Homo sapiens: one gene and its partners. The protein of the gene in region 2 interacts with the protein of the main gene of each other region in a pairwise test. Each region holds a gene or a part of one and is shown on either strand. Other genes may lie near its edges.

Region 1 (7,134 bases), on a different chromosome or scaffold from region 2:
CTCCCAAGTAGCTGGGATTACAGTCGTATGCTACCACACCCAGCTAATTTTTGTATTTTTATTTTTATTTACTTATTATTTTGAGATGGAGTCTTGCTCTGTTGCCCAGGGTGGAGTGCAGTGGCAGCATCTCTGCTCACTGTAACCTCTGCCTCCTGGGTTCAAGCGATTCTCGTGCCTCAGCCTCCCGAATAGCTGGGACTACAAGTGCGTGCTACCATGCCTGGCTAATTTTTTTGTATTTTTATTAGAGAGGCGTTTCATGTTGGCCAGGCTGGTCTCAAACTCCTGACCTCAGGTGATCCACCTTCCTTGGTCTCCCAAAGTGCTGGGATTGCAAGCGTGAGCCACTGCGCCTAGCCTAATTTTTGTATTTTTAGTGGGGGGTGGTTTTGCGATGTTGGTCAGGCTAGTCTCGAACTACTGACCTCAGGTGATCCACCTGCCTCGTTCTCCTAGTGCTGGGATTATAGGCGTAAGCCACTGCACCCAGCCAGCAATTTTTAATTCTCTATTTTTTGCTCTGGAGGTCCTAAGTTTTAGATTCAGTGACACATTGCTGTGCCATTCATGCTGCTGGGTACTGTCGATTAGCAGTCAGCATCCATTCCCATCTCCTTCTAGTGTCCCTTCCTATGCTGCAGAATCTGGAGAGTTAAAATGTCATGGCCAGGATTTGGAAATGAAGTGGAGGCCACCCGCCTGCTGCTTGCTGCTGAAGTGTGGCAGCAAAGGTATGAGGTGTGTCTGCAGCAGGGTTGCAGGGTCCAGTCACTAGCCATGTAGGGGTCGAGAGCCTGTTTCAGGGGCAGCAATAGTGATGGTGACTTCCAATCCCTTAATCACAGCCACAACAGTGTGTTGTTGAGCTTAACAGGTACAGTGGTGATGTCCTGATTTCTTACCTTCCTGATTGCAGCAAAAATGGGTAGCTACCCTGTTGGGACAGTTTGGAGTCATCCCTGCAGAGTCATTCTCTAGCCTCCCTGATAATTTGTATTACTTAATTCCTTATATGAATTCTTTTCTGTTTAAACTAGCCAGGTTGCTTTTTGCTTAAACTAGCCAGGTTGGTTTTAACTGAACCTTGAAAAATATACTGAAGTTCAGAGCATCTAACACTAAAGGTTGTGCTGGTCTTGGTGGCGAGAGTAAGTCCCACAGCAGACCACAACAGATCTAGAGATCATAAGGCCTCTAACATTTCCTATGCCTAGTTGTCAGGGGCATGTCCTATGCAGGCCACCCCAAAAAGCCCTTTTACGTTAGCAGTCTGGAATGTTACTAGGTCATCCAGTACAGGTTGCGTGTGCCATAGTCATAAAATTTGGGACCTGAAACTTGGAGCCTGGATGCAGGAGATGTGGAATGAATACTAGGGTGAGTTCCAGGTACAGTCATAATTAAGGTGAAGGCATCAGTGACATGACTTCCCAGGTAAGAAGATACAAAAGGCTGAGCCCAGAGAAGCTTGGTGCTCCTCACTTCTGATGCTTTCTCTGCTGCTATGATGATCAAAAGTCCTCAGCACCTGAGCTGGCCTTTGGGAACCAGGTGGCAAGGACAGCCACACTAACAGGAAAGATGTAACTGCTGCTGTCCCTCTCTGGGTATCCAGCTTTACAAGAAATAGGTAAACTACTTTTCTTTGATAGATAGTATAGTGGTGTTTGGCTGACATTTTACCTTCTAAAATTATTAAGTTATCTTTAGAGTGAACTGCAATTACATTTTTGACAAGCTCTAAAATATATCCTAAACAAACCCCTCCATCTCTACCACCTCTACCCTATCCCCAGTTATCAGCATCTATCAGCAGGGGAGAGATCATATCTTATCTCTTCCCTGCTTAAGATCCTTCGAAGGTGTCCCTTCACATTCATAAGAAAAAATCCAAACTCCTTAAGGTGGCCTACAAATTCCTACATAATCTGGCCTTTGCTTCTCTATCCATTCATATTTCCTGTCGCTTGGACTGGCTACATAATTTGTGGGGCCCAATGCAAAATGAAAATGCAGAGCTCCTTGTTCAAAAACTACTAAGAATTTTAAGAGGGCAATGGCAGAGCATTAAACCAGGCATCAGCCCTTTCCTTTTTTTTAATTTTTAAAATATTTATTTAGATTTTCTTTTTGTTAGTAATTAAATCTTTCTTCTTCTTCTTCTTCTCCTCCTCCTCCTTCTCCTTCCTCTCCTTCCTCTTCCTCTTCTTCTTCTTCCCTCTTCCCTCTCTCCTCCTCCTCGTCCTCCTCCTCCTTGAAACAGTGCAGTGGCACAATCTCAGCTCACTGCAACCTCCACTTTCCATGTTCAAGTGATTCTCATGCCTCAGCCTCCCGAGTAGCTGGGATTACAGGTATGTGTCACCATGCCCAGCTAATTTTTGTATTTTTAGTAGACACTGGGTTTTGCCATGTTGGCCAGGCTGGTCTCAAGTGATCCGCCCGCCTCAGCCTCCCAAAGTGCTGGGATTACAGGTGTAAGCCACCGCACCTGGCTCTTTTTTTGTTTTGTTTTGTTAAGTATAAAACCTCACCTGGAAGCACCAGCCCTTTCTGAGTGTGCGGGCCTGTGCCACTGCGTGGGTTGCACGTCCATTAAGCTGGTCTACCTGCCATCCACTTCCTCAACCCAATGGCATTCTCCTGTTTCTTAGATATGTACCAACCGGTTTTCTGTTTTATCTTAGCATGGCTCACTACTCCTCATTAGGGTCTCTCAGCGAAGGGGGTAGCCTTTTTTTTTTTTTTTTTTTTTTTTGAGACAGAGTCTTGCTCTGCTGCCCAGGCTGGAGTGCAGTGGCCAGATCTCCACTCACTGCAATCTCTTTGGTTCAAGCATTCTCCTGCCTCAGCCTCCCAAGTAGCTGGGATTACTGGCCCACGCCCGGCTAATTTTTGTATTTTTAGTAGAGATGGGGTTTCACCATGTTGGCCAGGCTGGTCTCGGACTCCTGACCTCAGGTGATCCACCCGCCACCACTCCAGCCTGGGCAACAGAGTCTGAGACTCCGTCTCAAAAAAAAAAAAAAAAAAAAAAAAAAAGTCATACTGGCATAGAGTGAACCCCTAATCCAATATGACTGGTATCCTTATAAAAATACTTTTTTTTTGGAGACGGAGTCTCTCTCTGTCGCCCCAGGCTGGAGTGCAGTGGCGCGATCTCGACTCACTGCAACCAAAAGGAGACATTTTGACATGGAGACATATACAGGGAATATGCCCTGTGAACATGAAGATGGCCATATGCAAGCCCAGGAGAGAAGCCTGGAAGAGACCGTTTCCTCACAGCGCTCAGAAGGAAAGAACCCTGCCAACATCTTGCTTTCAGATGCCCCCAGGATTGTCAGACAATAAGATCTGTTATTGACGCCACCGGGTTGGTGATACTTAGGTACAGCAGCCCTAGCAAACGAATACACCCCCATGAGAACTAAGCTCCCTGAGAGCGGTAAGCTGCCTTGTCTTGCTCACAGCTGACAAGAACACGCCTGTACGGTCACTTAGCACCTAGTACTGCCATTTAACCGTTTCACTAGTATGTATGAACCGGAGAGCCTGTCAAGGGAAGAGCTGAATCTTTTATCTTTTGTAACGACTACCCAGTGAAAGAAACCGCGGGTATGCAATAAAAACCTGTTGAATCGATTAAACCATTTCCCTTATTTCCAGATTTTTGCGGAAAGCGCCAGTAGGTGAAATATGTGCGGACTGATGAGTCAAAGCTCTTATTCCCTGGACTGCATTAATACCCACGACGTGCTTTTCGCTCTCCAGACAAAGAGACCGGTACTTGGCAGGTCCCTCAAGTGGGACTCAAAAGACCGAACCGAGCTGCAGCCTTTCGCTAGCACTGGTCCTCGCCCCTTTTGGCATCTTGGTACTTGTAGTTTTGTCCACTCTATCTTTACCCGAAAAGCCAGCGCTGAGACCACAACTCCCATCACCCTGCGAGCACCAGCGCCTTCAGAGCGCATCCTCCGAGGGGCACCAGCGCCATTGACCACCCTGCTGGCCGAAGGGCCCGCCTTCCCGAGGCCAGGCGCTCCCGCGATTGGCCAGCCGCCCCGCCTCTCATCGGAGGGCGCCAGGTGAATGAAAGGGGGGCGTGTCGGTGCGCGGTGCTCCGTGGCTGCGCTGCTGGAACCCGCTGGAAGGTGAGCGCGAAGAAGCGGGTTGGCGCTGCCGCTTTCGTTGGTTTGGGGAGGATTCCTAGCACCCGGGAGGCTGGCTGGAGATTGGGGTTAGCGGGCAGGGTTGCCCCCACTCAGTCATCCTCCTTCGGACCGCTTGGCCCTGGCAACTCCTGGGACCTCCGCCCCGCGAGCCCTTCTAGCGTGGGGAGGGGCAGGCGCGGCCGTGGGGCCCCAGCTTCCCTGTCATTGGGTGTCCTCCGCGTCGTCCAGCCGGGGGTCGCGGCGCCGACTACTTCCACGGTGAATGGTGCCCAGGCGTGGGGGGCTCGGCCACACTGGAGAAGTGCCAGCGGCAGCGATGGCCACTTTGTCCGCGGGAGGCCATGGGAGGGGCTAGGCCTTGGGGTCCCACCCTCGGGGGCCGTGCCCTGTAGCTGGTTCTGGTGGCCTCTCTGCAGGTCGTCTGATGCTGGACGGGGGAGGGTCTGTCTTGCGAGCAGTTTAGATGCAGTTGACCCTGAAATTCTTCGTATGGAAATGGAAACTTCTCCAGTGTCCTTCTCCTCCGATCCATGCCTAAAAGAAAGGAGTGACTTCCCCAACCTGTCGCATCGTGTCCTGGAGGGTTTGAGGAGGCCGGTTAGCATAGTGGTTAAGGATGTCAACCCGGGAGTCAGTCGGATCTCTGTTCTATTACTAACTTGGTGATGTTATCTGCATCTTTGAATCTCAGTTCCTCCTCTGAAAAAGAGGATGTAGTTAGAGTATCTGTCGTACTGGATTATTGTGAGGTGAAAACTAATGTGCTTGTAAAAGCCAGGCATGGTGGCGCGCACCTGTAGTCCCTGCTACTCGGGAAGCTAAGGTTGGGAGGATCTCTTGAGCCCAGGAGTTCCAGGCTGCATTGAGGTAGGATCGTGCACTCCAACCTGGGCAACCGAGCAAGACCGTGCCTTTTAAAAATTTTAATTTAAAAAGTAAAATGAATATGCTTGTACTTTGTACAGTGTTTTATAAGGAATAGTGCTTAATATTTACTAAAATTGAGGAGCAGGTTTTTGTTATTCTCAGGTTGGTGGGACTGGAGGAGTCTTGTCAGAAAGGGTCGGAGGTGGAATTCAAGGCTGCTTTTGGCCTCTGAACAGAGACAGTTGTGTGATCTGGCTAGGACTCCCTCAAGGGTATATGAGAGTTTGTATTGCAGGTAGTTGTGTTGGCATCTGCTGTCTCCTGGAGGACAGGCACTATACTTGGTTCATTTTTCTATTCCTGGCATCTTCCTTGTGTCAGGCATTGTATGTAGCCGGTAACCGTTGAATTGAGTTGGAACCGTGGGATGGTTGGGAGGTTCCCTGCCAGAGTGCGGATAAATGTGCTTCTGAGAGCAGTCTGCCCTAAGAGCTGCTCTTCTGGGATAAGTGGTGATCCTCAGCACTTCCCGGGGCAGCAGAGCACTTCAGGCAAATGGGGGTGATATAAATAAATATTTACACAATATATACCAAGTACAGGATTGGGGAAAATTTTGAAGAAAATACTATACGGATAGACTTTTGCAACGTCAGGAAGTAGAATAAAAATAATTGCAATAGAATAAAAAATAATTTCAGTAAGAAAGCCAAAAGAAATTGGTTTTAGGTGCTATTTCTGGAAAGGAGGCTTTTCCAGTGAAAGACGGAAGTGCCCTGGGAAGAGCCCCTATAGATCAGACCATACTACAAGTTAAGAAGTGTTGTGCGTACTTACATATTTATCTACCTGGCTTACCAACTCCTTACCCCTCTGCCCTGCCTCCTTTTTTTCTTAGTTAACAAAGAAAAAAGCCAAGGCAGAAGGATCACTTGAGTCCAGGAGTTCAAGACCATTGAGACCAGCCAGGGCAACATAGTGAGACCCCATCTCTACAAAAAAATGTTTTCAGAATTAGCTGAGTGTGGTGCTGCATGCCTGTAGTCACAGCTACTTGGGAGGCTGAGGTAGGAGGATTGCTTGAGCCTGGGAGGTCGAGGCGGCAGTGAACTGTGATCATGGACTGCACTCCAGCCTGGGTAACAAAGTAAGACCCCGTCTCAAAAGAAAAGAAAAGCAATACATGCACATAGTAAAACATTCTATCAGAAAGGTTTAAAATGAAAGGCGAAAGTCCCTCCACACACTTGTTTTTTTTTTTTTTTTTGAGATGGAGTCTCGCACTATCGCCCAGGCTGGAGTGCAGTGGCACAATCTCTGCTCACTGCAGCCTCCGCCTCCACCGCCTCCTGGGTTCAAGTGATTCTCCTGCCTCAGCCTCCCGAGTAGCTGGGATTACAGGTGCCCGCCACCATGCCCAGCTAATTTTTTTGTATTTTTAGTAGAGACGGGGTTTCACTACGTTGGCCAGGCTGGTCTCGAACTCCTGACCCCAGGTGATCTACCCACCTTGGCCTCCCAAAGTGCTGGGATTACAAGTGTGAGCCACCACACCCGGCCCCAAGTGGATTTTAAACTTGGTTTATAGTTTATCTACTAAGCAGTTAAGAAATGAATATTCCTTTTTTGCTTAACAAATCTATTTTGTCCAAAGCACTCTGCCAGATACTGTAAGGGATATAAAATTGAATAAGACATGGCTCATGCTTTCAAAGGGCTTGTAGTTCATTGACAGAGAAGGGCCAGGACATAAATAATAAACAGGAGTTAACCAAGGGTAGTGGAATCAGTCAGTTAGGAGTCTCCCAGTTGCATGAAATAGAAAACCCAACTCAGAGGCCAGGTGTGGTGTCTCACACCTGTAACCCCAGCACTTTAGGAGGCTGAGGGGGGCAGATCACTTGAGGCCAGGAGTTCGAGACCAGCCTGGGCAACATGGCAAAACCCTGTCTCTACCAAAAGTACAAAAAAAATTAGCCTGGCGTGGGGGTGGGTACCTGTAGTCCCAGCTACTCGGGAGGCTGAGGTAGGATGATTACTTTAGCCAGGGAGGCGGAGGTCAGAGTGGGCCGAGATCACACCACTGCAC
Region 2 (7,024 bases):
TCTCCATGCCTTTATTTTGAGCCTATTTGTGTTATTGCATGTGAGATGGGTCTCTTGAAGACAGCATACCAATGGGTCTTGGTTCTTTATCTAGCTTGCCATTCTGTTTTTTTTTTTTTTTTGTTTTGTTTTTTGAGACAGAGTCTTGCTCTGTCTCCCAGGCAGGCTGGAGTGCAGTAGCACAATCTCGGCTCACTGCAACCTCTGCCTCCTAGGTTCAAGTGATTCTCCTGCCTCAGCCTCCCAAGTAGCTGGAATTATAGGCACCCAACACCATGCCTGGCTAATTTTTCTATTTTTTAGTAGAGATGGGTTTTCATCATGTTGGCCAGGCTGGTCTTGAACTCCTGGCCTCAAGTGATTCACCTGCTTCAGCCTCTCAAAGTGCTGGGATTACAGACATGAGCCACCATGCCTGGTCTGTTTGATGACCTTGAGGTTTTGATTGTGGTATAAGGTGGATTCAGCCAACTGGCTTCATTTATGGAATATTTAAGGGGCCAGTGCCCAGCTGCCAACTCCTGGACTCTGCATGCTCTAGCTCTGGGGGACTTGTTTTGGGCCCTGACTTTGTTCTCTGGCTCCTTGAGGTTTGGAATCCACTGCACTGGGGGGCTGAGGTACTGCAGCTACAGCAGAGTGGCTGGCAGATGCAGAGTGCCTGCCTTCCTGTGGGGGTTCACCACAGTGGTGGAGGCAAAGCAGCTGGGGTGGGGATGGGGGGCTCCTGTTGGAGACTGTGTGCAGTTACTCTGGAGGTACTATAGGCATGGGTGGGGTGCTGGTTGGCACAGGTCTAGGTGCCTTTTCTGTGCCCTGCAAGCAGGAGTGATCGCTCAGGGTGGGGGAGGATCCACTGTTCTCTGCTCAGTGTTAGGTCAAAGGCAGGGTTCTGGCGGGTATGGGGCTTGCTGGCTCTGTGTCTGCCAAGGCTTCACCTGCAATGGAAGTCTGTAGGGAAAGGGGAGGCCCACTGGACTCCTGCATGCTGGTGGGGGAAGGAAATCAAAACCCACCTGTGCAGACATCAGCAGAGTGATGTGGGGAGTTGCCTGGGCCCAGGGGAAGCTACAATATGAGGAGGGAGCAGGCAGGCTGGTGTGTGGCCGTCGGGGCTGTCTCACTGGAGCTCTCCACTGGCCAGGCACAGTCTGCTGGCACAGAAGCTATGGTGAAGACCCCCAGGGCACCCAAGACTGCCCTGCAAGCAGGCATGGCCAGGCTGGGGCCCCAGGAGAGGCCAGCAGACGAAGGGGTGCTCAGGTTGGACTGGTCCCATCTGATGGGTAAGACCACCCTGCAGAGAACAGGTCTGACAGTTCCCCTAGGTCCAAAGTCTCCTGTGGGAGCAAATCAAGCCTGGGGGACGGCCGTCCCTGGCTGTGTTCCTGCACCAGACCCTCTGGGTTCTGCTTCAGCTGGCTGCTGCCCCCATCACTTCTCTAAGCAGCTCTCCCTGCCAACTAGAGTGTCCATGGTGGGCAAGGGGTCTCCCCCAGCTGGGGTTCCAGAGGCCCATGGCAACAGTGGGTTGCTCCTTGCCCGTTTAACTCCCCCATTTCCCCAGAGCTGTTGTGGGTCCAAAAATGAGCACCAGTGCTCAGTAGTCCCAGGCAGGTTCCCAGCTTTCTCCCCTTCAGCCCAGCTTCTGTGTGCTCCCTCCATCTGCCCTCAGCACCTTCCCTCTGAAGATGTGTTAGAAGCTCACCAGTCATCTCAGGCCCTCCGTGGGAGCTGTATCATCTGGCTGCATCTGGCCGGCCATCCCGCCCTTCCAATCCACATGAACTTCTTATTTCTGTCTTTGTCCTTATTACTCAGAACTCGGGCCTTGGCCTTGACTTTCATGGGGCCTCCTCCAGGGAAGGTGAGAGAGGGTTTTGGCCGCATCCTGGTCCTCCTGACCAGCTGTGGGAAGGACCAACGGTCCCATCTGCCCAGAGGAGGGAGGTTTGCACAGGCTGGATGCTGTGGAAGAGTCCTTCCTGTTCTTATTTTTGGAAAACAGAAAATTTGAGAAATGGCTCATCTTGTTCGGTGTTTGTGAGCCTATCTCTGTACCAGTGGAGGTATCTCAGCTTCTTGCCAGGGACCGTATCTGGTATCTTGCTACGCTGCACAGCCACTGGGTTCTGCACACCCTGCCTCTTGCTCTCCACCCCACCGCCTCGTGCTCTGCACACACCCCTGCCTCATGCTCTCCACCCCCATCTTGTGCTCTGCACACCTCCCCGCTTTGTGCTCTGCACAACCCCCGCCTCACGCTCTGTGCATCCTCCGCCTCACGCTCTGTGCATCCCCCGCCTCACGCTCTTTGCATCCCCCACCTCACACTCTGTGCATCCCCCGCCTCATGCTCTGCACTCCTGCCTCATGCTCTGTGCATCCCCCGCCTCATGCTCTGCACTCCTGCCTCATGCTCTGTGCACACTCCTGCCTCGTGCTGTGTGTTCTTGATCATGTTTGGATGAGACTTTGTGCAATTATTTTTGGCCTGGCCATGGTTTTTTTTTTTTTTTTTTTTTTTCTGGGGGTTATCTTTGTAGGAATTTGACATCAGAGTTGTGACAAATTTTGAAACCTAATTGAGCATCTTTTAACCTGTTCTACGGTTCCAGCCTCATTTGTATGATGTCGGGATTATGACTTGTTTGGGAACTTGGCACACTCACCCACAGACCATCCAGGCCTGCAGCCCTCTGGGGAATAATCATTTCATAACTTTTAGATTTTCCTTCTTTGTGTATTGGTTCATTTAGGTTTTCTACTTCTTATTGAGTCACTTGAAAGTAATTTTCCAGGCTATCTCCTTTTATTGAAATTTTAATTAATACATAATTGTACATAATATTCTTTTATAATTTGAAAAGTGTCTGGGGTGGGGGGTCTGTGAAGCCTGAGGACTCCAGGCCTCCCACGTGGCAGGAGGCCGGGCACACGCTGATGACTTTGCTTCTTTCGAACTTTTTTTCCTTGGAAAACATTTCAGAGGGAAGATTAGTTGGTTCCTTTGTAGGCACATTTTTTTTTTTTTTTTTGAGATGGATTCTTGCTCTGTCGCCCAGGCTGGATTGCAGTGGCACGATCTTGGCTCACTGCAAGCTCCAGTAGGCACATTTTAAGGTATAATTTTTTGATATGGCTCCGAACACTTTCTCTAATATGTATTTGCTTTATTGCTAGGAGAATACACATGACATGGAGGTAGAATAGAATTTCATAAGCCATAAAGGCATAGATAAGCTAAATTTGGCCAGGGATTGGGGAAATGCCACATGACCTCATCAGCCTGGTTGGGGAATATTCAGTCCTCATGAGGGTGTGGGGCCAGGAGGTGTTGGTGGGCATGGACCCTCCCCCTTGGTGTGGAAAGCAAAGAAAGTGAACACACCTGAGCCCAGCGTCAGACCACAGAGGATGTTCACAGAGCAGGAGGCTCCTCCCCATCCACAAAGGATGTTCACAGAGCAGGAGGCTCCTCCCCATCCACAGAGGATGTTTACAGAGCAGGGAAGCTCCTCCCCATCCACAGAGGATGTTCACAGAGCAGGAGGCTCCTCCCCATCCACAGAGGATGTTCACAGAGCAGGGAGGCTCCTCCCCATCCACAGAGGATGCTCACAGAGCAGGGAGGCTCCTCCCCATCCACAGAGGATGTTCAGAGAGCAGAGGGCTCCTCCCCATCCACAGAGGATGTTCACAGAGCAGGAGGCTCCTCCTGGACCACAGAGGATGCTCACAGAGCAGGAGGCTCCTCCCCATCCACAGAGGATGTTCACAGAGCAGGGAGGCTCCTCCCCATCCACAGAGGATGTTCACAGAGCAGGGAAGCTCCTCCCCATCCACAGAGGATGTTCACAGAGCAGGAGGCTCCTCCTGGACCACAGAGGATGCTCACAGAGCAGGAGGCTCCTCCACATCCACAGAGGATGTTCACAGAGCAGGAGGCTCCTCCTGGACCACAGAGGATGCTCACAGAGCAGGAGGCTCCTCCCCATCCACAGAGGATGCTCACAGAGCAGGGAGGCTCCTCCCCATCCACAGAGGATGTTCACAGAGCAGGAGGCTCCTCCTGGACCACAGAGGATGCTCACAGAGCAGGAGGCTCCTCCCCATCCACAGAGGATGCTCACAGAGCAGGGAGGCTCCTCCCCATCCACAGAGGATGCTCACAGAGCAGGAGGCTCCTCCCCATCCACAGAGGATGCTCACAGAGCAGGGGGCTCCTCCCCATCCACAGAGGATGTTCACAGAGCAGGGGGCTCCTCCCCATCCACAGAGGATGCTCACAGAGCAGGAGGCTCCTCCCCATCCACAGAGGATGCTCACAGAGCAGGGGCTCCTCCCCATCCACAGAGGATGCTCACAAAGCAGGAGGCTCCTCCCCATCCACAGAGGATGCTCACAGAGCAGAGGCTCCTCCCCATCCACAGAGGATGCTCACAGAGCAGGGGCTCCTCCCCATCCACAGAGGATGCTCACAGAGCAGGGGGCTCCTCCCCATCCACAGAGGATGTTCACAGAGCAGGGGGCTCCTCCCCATCCACAGAGGATGCTCACAGAGCAGGGGCTCCTCCCCATCCACAGAGGATGCTCACAGAGCAGGGGGCTCCTCCCCATCCACAGAGGATGCTCACAGAGCAGGGGCTCCTCCCCATCCACAGAGGATGCTCACAGAGCAGGGGGCTCCTCCCCATCCACAGAGGATGTTCACAGAGCAGGGGGCTCCTCCCCATCCACAGAGGATGCTCACAGAGCAGGGGCTCCTCCCCATCCACAGAGGATGCTCACAGAGCAGGGGGCTCCTCCCCATCCACAGAGGATGCTCACAGAGCAGGGGCTCCTCCCCATCCACAGAGGATGCTCACAGAGCAGGGGGCTCCTCCCCATCCACAGAGGATGTACACAGAGCAGGAGGCTCCTCCCCATCCACAGAGGATGCTCACAGAGCAGGGGGCTCCTCCCCATCCACAGAGGATGCTCACAGAGCAGGAGGCTCCTCCCCATCCACAGAGGATGCTCACAGAGCAGGGGCTCCTCCCCATCCACAGAGGATGCTCACAGAGCAGGGGCTCCTCCCCATCCACAGAGGATGCTCACAGAGCAGGGGGCTCCTCCCCATCCACAGAGGATGCTCACAGAGCAGGAGGCTCCTCCCCATCCACAGAGGATGTTCACAGAGCAGGGGGCTCCTCCTCATCCACAGAGGATGCTCACAGAGCAGAAGGCTCCTCCCGGGAGGCCAATTACAGCTGTGTGTTTGCACGGAAACATGGAAACAGGCCCTGTCCATCAATAGGGCAAGGGTTAAAAATTCAGTGTGTGTGTCTGTATGTGTGCTCATGTGTACAGAGTTGCCAGGAAACAGTTAAATGAACCAGGTAGCTACCAGATGGCTCAGGGTGGATAAATCTCAAAGAGATAATGCAGCAGCAAAAAGTTCAGTTGCAGAATAAAATGTGTAGGGTGCTACCATTTATGTACAACTTAAGCATATAAAAGTCATTCTCCAGTGTGTGTGGGCACACAGGCAGGCAGGAGGCACACGGAGGCCTGCCCGCTTGCTGTGCCCATAGACGCAGTGCTCCCACGGGCAGGATGGGCACCTGTGGCCACTTCACCACATCCAGCTCCTCCTTTTACACTTGAGGCCTGAGGGGAAGGAGGATGCTCTGAAGCCAGGGAAACCCCGGCAGGTGTTGAAGCTTGGGGTGGGGTGCATAGGGGTTGTTAACATGTTCTTTATACTTCCCAGGAATGTTTTAGGAGCATCAGCCTGATTTCTCATCCCTTTCCTCCCCGCCTCAGTTCCAGATTTCGGAAGGTTCACGAGTGTTGCCGACACGCCCTCCCAACTGCAGACATCCTCCCTGGAGGACCTGCTGTGCTCACATGCCCCCCTGTCCAGCGAGGACGACACCTCCCCGGGCTGTGCAGCCCCCTCCCAGGCACCCTTCAAGGCCTTCCTCAGTCCCCCAGAGCCACATAGCCACCGAGGCACCGACAGGAAGCTGTCCCCGCTCCTGAGCCCCTTGCAAGACTCACTGGTGGACAAGACCCTGCTGGAGCCCAGGGAGATGGTCCGGCCTAAGAAGGTGTGTTTCTCGGAGAGCAGCCTGCCCACCGGGGACAGGACCAGGAGGAGCTACTACCTCAATGGTATGGCCGGGTGCGGGGGCACCTGGGGGGGCCCCCAGTGCAGGCTGGCAGCTGTGGGGAGGGCATGACTGGGTGGTCAGGCAGGGCCGTTTCTCCATCCAGTCACACAGAGTGGAGGGAGGAGAGCCAGGCTGGGAGGCTGGGGTCCAAGGCTGTGTCTGTCCTAGTCTTTTGTCCATCTTTAAAGATAAAATGGGTTGCTTATCTTCTTCTTGGGAAGTTGTGAGAGTTCTTTATGTGTCTGGATATGAGTCCTTTTTTGGGTGTATGTTTTGCAGATACGGTCTCCCACTCCATGGTTTTTCATTTTCATAATAATGTTTTTTGATGAGCAAAACTGTTTAATTTGATGATGTCCAATTTATTGATTTTTCTTTTGTATTTTATGCTTTTTATGTTCAGTTTAAGAAATCTTTGCCAAGCCCAAGGTCACACAGATTCTCTCCTGTGTGTTGTTCTAGAAGTTTTATAGTTTAGGTTTTACATGTAGGTCTCTGATCAATTCCAAGTTAATTTTCATATATGGTGTGAGGTTTGCATGTAGATATCCACCTGAGGCTCAGGCCAGCCTCCCACCTCAGCCTCCCAGGTATCTGGGACTACAGGTGTATGCCACCAGGCCTGGCTAATTTTTTGGTTTTTGTGTTTTTGTTATTGTAGAGATGGGATTTTGCTACGATGCCCAGGCTGGTCTTGACCTCCCGGGCTGAAGCAATTCGCCTGCCTCGGCCTCCCAAAATGCTGGGATTACAGGCATGAGCCACCATGCCTGGCCTGTCAATTTTATTTATCTTTTCAAATAACCGATTTTTTGTTACATTGATCTGTTGTATTGTTTTCTTCATTTAAATTTCATTTATTTCTT
Region 3 (6,841 bases), on a different chromosome or scaffold from region 2:
CTAAGCATCCCTCATGCTTAAATTACATCAAATTGTTTTTGTAGTACTTGCAGCCAGTACGTGCTTATTAACACTGGAAGGACCATGACTTACTTGATCTGTGTGTGTGCACTCACATGTTTATATGTGTGTGTGCCCATGTGTGTTTAAGAGAAAGACAGTGCTGGCAGCGGTGTGGAAGGTGGACTGCCTTACCCTCAGGGTCTTTCACCTAGTCTATTCCAGTGATCTCTTGTCCTTGTCTCTATTTTCCCTGTCATGATCCCACTGCATTCTTTATATTACTGTCAGAATGATCTATCTGAAATGTATTACGTTACTGTCAGAATGATCTACCTGAAATGCACTATGCTACTGTCAGAATGATCTACCTGAAATGTACTAGGTTACTGTCAGAATGATCTACCTGAAATGTACCAGGTCACTGTCAGAATGATCTAACGGAAATGTACTAGGTTACAGTCAGAATGATCTATCTGAAATGTACTAGGTTACTGTCAGAATGATCTACTGGAAATGTACTAGGTTACTGTCAGAATGATCTACCGGAAATGTACTAGGTTACTGTCAGAATGATTTACCAGAAATGTGCTAGGTTACTGTCAGAATGATCTACCGGAAATGTACTATGTTACTGTCAGAATGATCTACCTGAAATGGACATCTGCTCATATTTCCCCATCACCTACAGAAGTCAAGCTCCGTAGTGTTATATACAAGTACATTCATTCCTTCAACAAATATTTAATGAGGACTTACTATTATTTAATATTTAATGAGTACCTACTATGTCCTACTACTACTACTAGGCCAACCAGTCTAGGCACTAAGGATAGAAGAGAGTAAGACGAATTTACATGCCAGTGGCCAGTGGTAGAGACAGGCATTAAACAAGTTTTGTTTTGTTTTCCAGGTAGTGATAAGTACTATAGAGAAAGAATAGAGCAGAAGGAGGTAGAGAGTGACAGGAGCAGGGGCAAGGGGTGCTCTTTTAGACAGGATGGGCAGGCAAGGTTGAGGGAAGATGTATATGAGCAGACACCTGAATATGATGGGGAACTGAAAATGGGATAATGTGGCAATGAGTTTTCCTTGCAGAGAATAGCAAATGGAAAGATCCTGAGGCAGGGACAGCTTTGGTGGCTTAGAGGACCTACAAGGTAGCAGGGTAGCAGAGTCATTAAGATGGGCAGGAGTCAAATCAGATAAGGACATGGGGTAAACTGCAGGCCAGGCTCATAGATTGTTCTGAGAGTCATGGGAGACTATTGGTGGGTTTTGAGTAGGAGAATCACATTTGCTTTTTGTTTTTCAAAAAGCATTTTGGCCGCTCTGCAGGCCTGCCTGTATTAAAGGCTAGAATAGAAGCCAGGAAAGCAATAGTCCAGACAGAAGATCATGATGGCGTAGGCTTGGGTGGCAGTAATGGAAGTGGTGAGAAGCAGTCAGGCTCCAGATACAGTCAGGCTGAACACAGAACTGGCTGGCCCGACTGATGCATTAGAAGGGGTGTCCGGAGGAAAGAGAGGCCCTGAGGAGCCACTAAGGTTTTTGCAAGGAGCACCTGGGCGAATGGAATGGGCTGGTGGTTGAGCAGGTTTGGAGTACCTGAATACAGTGGAGGAAACAAGAATTCTCTTTGGGACATACTCAGTTTGAGATCATTTCAGAAATGGAAGAAGTTGGTTATACCAGTCTGGAGTTTGAGGAAGAGGTCAGGATGGAAGCGCATCTCCCGTGACTTACCTTACAGTCCATATGTATACCAATGAATGAAATATCCAACTGATTGGCTTGTGGTTGCCACGTATGATGTTTACGTGTGACGTTTTGTGGTTTGGTGCCTTTGTGTCATCCTCTCTGCTGGGAACACCCCTTCAACTTTTCCACCTTTGGCTGAGTCTTGCCCTTTAAAGGTAAGCCCATGAAACATGGAGAAACCCTCTCTACTAAAAATACAAAATTAGCTGGGCGTGGTGGCACATGCCTGTAATCCCATCCACTCGGGAGGCTGAGGCAGGAGAATCGCTTGAACCCGGGAGGCAGAGGTTGCAGTGGGCCGAGATAGCGCCTTTGCACTCCAGCCTGGGCAACAAGAGTGAAACTCCTCTCAAAAAAAAAAAAAAAAAAAAAGGGTAAGCCCAGCCATCCTCTCCTCAAAAAGCTTTCCCTGAAGACTGGGAGTCAGGAGTCTCTCATCTGTACCTCTGTGGTTCTGACCTCCTCATTAAAGTTGCCTAGTAGAGTCTCTAGGGCAGGGTCTGCCTAACTCATCTTTGTATGCTCAGGACCTTGCCCTGAGCCTGGCACACCGTTTGGAGCTATACACACACGCAAGGGCAGGAACCCATCAGAAGACCCACCCACTCAAGTAGAGGGCCGGGGAGGACTGGAACGACTGGAGAAGGGGAGACGGGTTCCAGTCACGTCCTCCGTGAACGTGAGACCCAGCTCTTCCCTCAGGGCCGCCCCCTGCCTCACCGCATCAGGGCGCCCCTCCACTGTCCTGGTTTACCGGTGAGCGGAGGGGCGCTAGGAGAGTTGACATCGGTTGTGGTGGAAGCACTGGGCTGTCACCCGCGGGGGAGGTAAACCGAAGCGTGCCCACCACTCGCGCGAAACCATGGGCAGTCAGAGCCACCTGTGGAACTGGCCTGGGCCGCGCCCTGTCCTCTGGCCCCCTCCCCCACCAACAGGCACGCGAGTGGTGAGCCAAGTTCGTCCAGCGCCGCCCCGGCGTCTAGGGCCCCGGCCCGGAGTAGGGGCAGGTCGGGCCCCCATGCGGCCACGACCGGAAGGCAGGCCCCTTGACCGGGCCCGTCGCTGCCCAGCCCCGCCCGCCCGCCCGCCCGCCCCCGCGGTACACACCGGTGGGAAGGAGGAGCGCCTCCTGCGCGGGCCGGGCCTCCGGGCTGCTGGCGCCGAGCACCCTCTCGGGCCGGGGCGGCGACGCCTGGGCCATGACTGTGCTGCAGCTGCGGGTGGCGGCCGGATAGCGAGATCCCGGAAGTGCCCCAGCTGCACTAGGTTTCGTTTTCTTAAATCTGGGCTGTCGCTTTGAGTCACTAGCCGGCCCGGGGAAAGTTGGGTGTGCAGAGAGGGGTTGTCACACACACTGCTCCAGATTCCAGTCTAGTCTTAATTTGAATAGCTTAAAAAACCCAAACGCCGGGAGCAGTGGCTCACGCCTGTAATCCCAGCACTTTGGGAGGCCGAGGAGGGCGGATCACGAGGTCAGGAGTTCAACACCAGCCTAACCAACATGGTGAAACCCCGTCTCTACTAAAAATACAAAAATTAGCTGGGCATGGTGGCGGGTGCCTGTAATCCCAGCTACTCCAGACACTGAGGCATGAGAATCGCTTGAATCGGGAGGCGGGGCTTGCAGTGAGCCGAGATCGCGCCACTACACTCCAGCCTGGGCTACAGAGCGGGACTCCGTCTCAAAACAAACAAACAAACAAACACACACAAAAAACAAACAAACAAAAAAACCCCAAACGCCAGGCTTCCCTACTCCACCCCCCACAACACAGCGGGAGAAACAATCACTCTCCTGAGGGTTCCTCCTAAAAACTATCATACTGGCCGGGTGGGCGCGGTGGCTCACGCCTGTAGTTCCAGGACTTTGGGAGGCCGAGGTGGGCGAATCACGAGGTCAGGAGTTCGAGACCAGCCTGGTCAACATGGTGAAACCCCGTCTCTACTAAAAATACAAAAATTAGCCGGGCTTGGTGGCGGGCGCCTGTAATCCCAGCTACTCGGGAGTCTGAGGCAGGAGAATCGCTTGAACCCGGGAGGCGGGGGTTGCAGTGAGCCAAGATCGCGCCACTGCACTCCTGCCTAGGCGACAGAGCCAGACTCCCTCTCAAAAAAAAAAAAAAAAAAAAAAAAATTATCATACCGAGTTTGGCTTAAATAAGCATATCTTAAAAGGACGCAGAATTAGCCGATCCTAAATCCAGTTGCCAGTAGCAAGCCTTTATTTAGCACCCATAGGGTACAGAGCACCATACAAGATGAGGTTTTCAGTGAATCTAACATAAATGCATATAATTATAGTTAAAAAATAAGTTGTTCTGGAAAAAAGACATATAATAGTTGGTGGTTTGCTGAGGAATTAAAGGAAAACTGGAGGTCTTCCACTTTCAGCAGGTTGTAAAGAGGAAGACTGCCAACTAGGGATAGCAGAAGAGAGAACATTAAAAAGGACAATTTGTATAGTCTTGACAACTATGAAATGAATTGCAGAAGAGTGTGGGGTCTGCAAAACAGGGAAGTGAGCAGACAGACCCTAGCAGCCAATTTTTAAATTTTTTTTTGCCCTCCATGCAGGAGGATGAAAGAGTATTTCTTGCCAGGCCAAAATGAAAGGCCCTTTATAAAGAGACTGACATTAGGGTGTTCCCCAGCAAGATAGCTCAGGTAGGTCATAGTAAAACAAAGAGCCCTTTACCACACTCTCAGCTTATAGTAAGCTTTTTGGTGTTCCACACTTAAATATGAGTAGACTACCAAGACCATTAACTCTGAGGAAAGCCTATAATGTGAACGACCAAAACAAACATACAGGGGAAACAAAGAAACAAACCCTGGAGGACACAGATTATGCCGAAAGAATACAGAGATGCATGCCTGTATGTGTATGTATACGTGTGTGCATATACATACATAAACACACAAACATCTTCAAGGAGATAAAATACTGCAACCATGAGCCAAAATAGGATGCTATTAAAAAAAAAGAATATTCGGAGAAGGGGAGCTCTTAGAAATTAAAAATATGAGACAATATGAGACTAGAAAAATAAAATGCAACAGATGAACTGGAAGATTAAATTGAGAAATGCTCCTAGGAAAAGGTCCTAGCAAGAAGACAGAGCTGAAAGTTAAGAGAAAAGATAGGAAAATTAGAGATCAAATTCTGGAGGTCTAACATCTGGAAAACAGGAATTCCAGAAACAGTGAAGAGATGGGAAATCATTAGTTTCAGACGGAATGATCCCACCAGGCACCTAGTACAAAGGATGAAAATGGACTCTTAACAGGGACAGAACATTGAGACAAAGATAAACCTATAAGCTTCAAGAGAGATAAAAATGGATTATATATGCAAAAGAGAAGGAACAGAATGGCATTCAATTTCCAGTAGTCACCCTGGAAGCCAGAAGACAGATTTTCAGACTCCACAGCAACAGCACTGAAAGCTAGCAGATGTCTTCAAAACTGGGCATGGAGACCACTAAAGAATCCTATACCTTGCCAACCAAAACAGCAATCAGGTATAAGGGTAAAATAAAGACATTGTCAAACACACAGAGATTCAAAACATTTACTTTTCATTTTTCCTTTCCAAAAGCTATTGGAAGAGCTTTACCAATATGTGGAAGAGTAAACCAAGGAAAAGGAAAATAATGGCATCTAACTGGAAACAGATCCCACATAAGAGACAAAGTGAATCTCTGGGGTACTGATGGAAGATGATGGCTATGAACCAGTCCAGACTAAAGCAAATCAAGATTTTAGGAGAAATTTCTCCAAGAAGATAAAACTGACAGAATACCTCATATTTCTAAAGGTCAAATGGACTCCACAGGCAGAGCTCAAAGAAATACTGGCTGATCCATAATATTCCCTTTTGCACAAAAATGGTTCCCATACTGATCAAGCTTTTTTCCCCCATTTCATTTTAGTGCATTGCCTGAAATTCCTGCGTCTCTATGGTGAATAAATGGATTTCTCAACTTTCTTCATCTGTAGGTTGCTGGGCTATGTTTTGCTCCTTTTCCTAGCTGTCTGGTTTCCCAGTCTGCTTGGGCTTCCCAGTCCCCTTTTCCACTAGATAGATGATCACGGCCAAGTAACCTATGGCAAAGTGCTTACTCTTTGCCTTTTTTCTGTAAAAAAAAAAGATTTGCAAATCATGCCCAGGAGATACCAAGGGGCTGTTTCAGATTTCATAGTTCAGAATTGTTTTCGTGTGTGTGTGTGTGTGCTGTTTTTTTTGAGAGAGAGTCTTGCTCTATTGCCCAGGCTGGAAGTACTATGGTGAAATTATGTCTCATTGCAGCCTTGACCTTCTGAGCTCAAATGATCCTCCCACCTCACTCCTGAGTAGCTGAGACTACGGGCACATGCCATCATGCCAGGCTAATTTTTGTATTTTTTGTAGAGACAGGGTTTTGACATGTTGCCCAAGCTGGTCTTGAACCCCTAGGCTCAAGTAATCCACCTGCCTCGGCCTCTCAAAGTGCTGGGATTACAGGTCTGAGCCACCATACCTGGACTTCTTGTGTTTTTTAAGTGAAATTTTTGCCCAGTACAATTACTTCTGGCCTAAATAAGCAACGTGTGACTACTTTCTAGGTTTCCTTTTCAGTAACTGTATCTCTATCTAGAACAAAAATATTCAAGTTCCTCCAGGTTTCTATTCCCTCTTCTCCTATCTGTTTGTATAGAAAGAGTAGAGAAAATCTGTGGGAAAGAAGACTCATTTCAAAGAGCTTGCCAGAATCTTACTTACAGAAGAGCTTCTCCCTCTCCCCACTCAAATGGTTGATGGGACAGTGTTTTATCGATCCAGATATTGCTTCTCCAACAAGTGTTAAAATACTTGGGAGTAATATGCATAAAATTAGATCCTCAGGCGCTGTTGCCCACCTTGTAGCTCATAATGGTAAATTATTTGCCAGGAATTAAAAATCAATTTTGTAGGTAAAAATGTGAAATTTAGCTCTTTGGGGGGGCATGAACTAAAAGGTAACAGTCACAAAAGCAATTAGAAACAGCTGAGTTCTGTTATGACATTTGTTTCTCTTAATATATAATTTGTAAATAAATT

The links. The genes of interacting proteins can lie anywhere in the genome.
Region 1: the proteins of SPATC1L (region 2) and ZBTB8B interact in binary tests that used the Homo sapiens proteins (3 or more experiments, as listed by UniProt).
Region 3: the proteins of SPATC1L (region 2) and PHF11 interact in binary tests that used the Homo sapiens proteins (3 or more experiments, as listed by UniProt).

What each region holds. Positions count from the first base shown.
Region 1 is NC_000001.11:32,460,949-32,468,082, forward strand, and holds the start of ZBTB8B (zinc finger and BTB domain-containing protein 8B), read left to right. Parts: upstream 1-4,123; 5' UTR 4,124-4,157; intron 4,158-7,134. UniProt on the Homo sapiens protein: May be involved in transcriptional regulation.
Region 2 is NC_000021.9:46,167,443-46,174,466, reverse strand, and holds part of SPATC1L (speriolin-like protein), read left to right. Parts: intron 1-5,808; coding exon 5,809-6,159; intron 6,160-7,024.
Region 3 is NC_000013.11:49,492,123-49,498,963, reverse strand, and holds the start of PHF11 (PHD finger protein 11), read right to left. Parts: upstream 3,012-6,841; 5' UTR 2,963-3,011; coding exon 2,869-2,962; exon of another isoform or gene 2,482-2,868; intron 1,909-2,481; exon of another isoform or gene 1,747-1,908; intron 1-1,746. UniProt on the Homo sapiens protein: Positive regulator of Th1-type cytokine gene expression.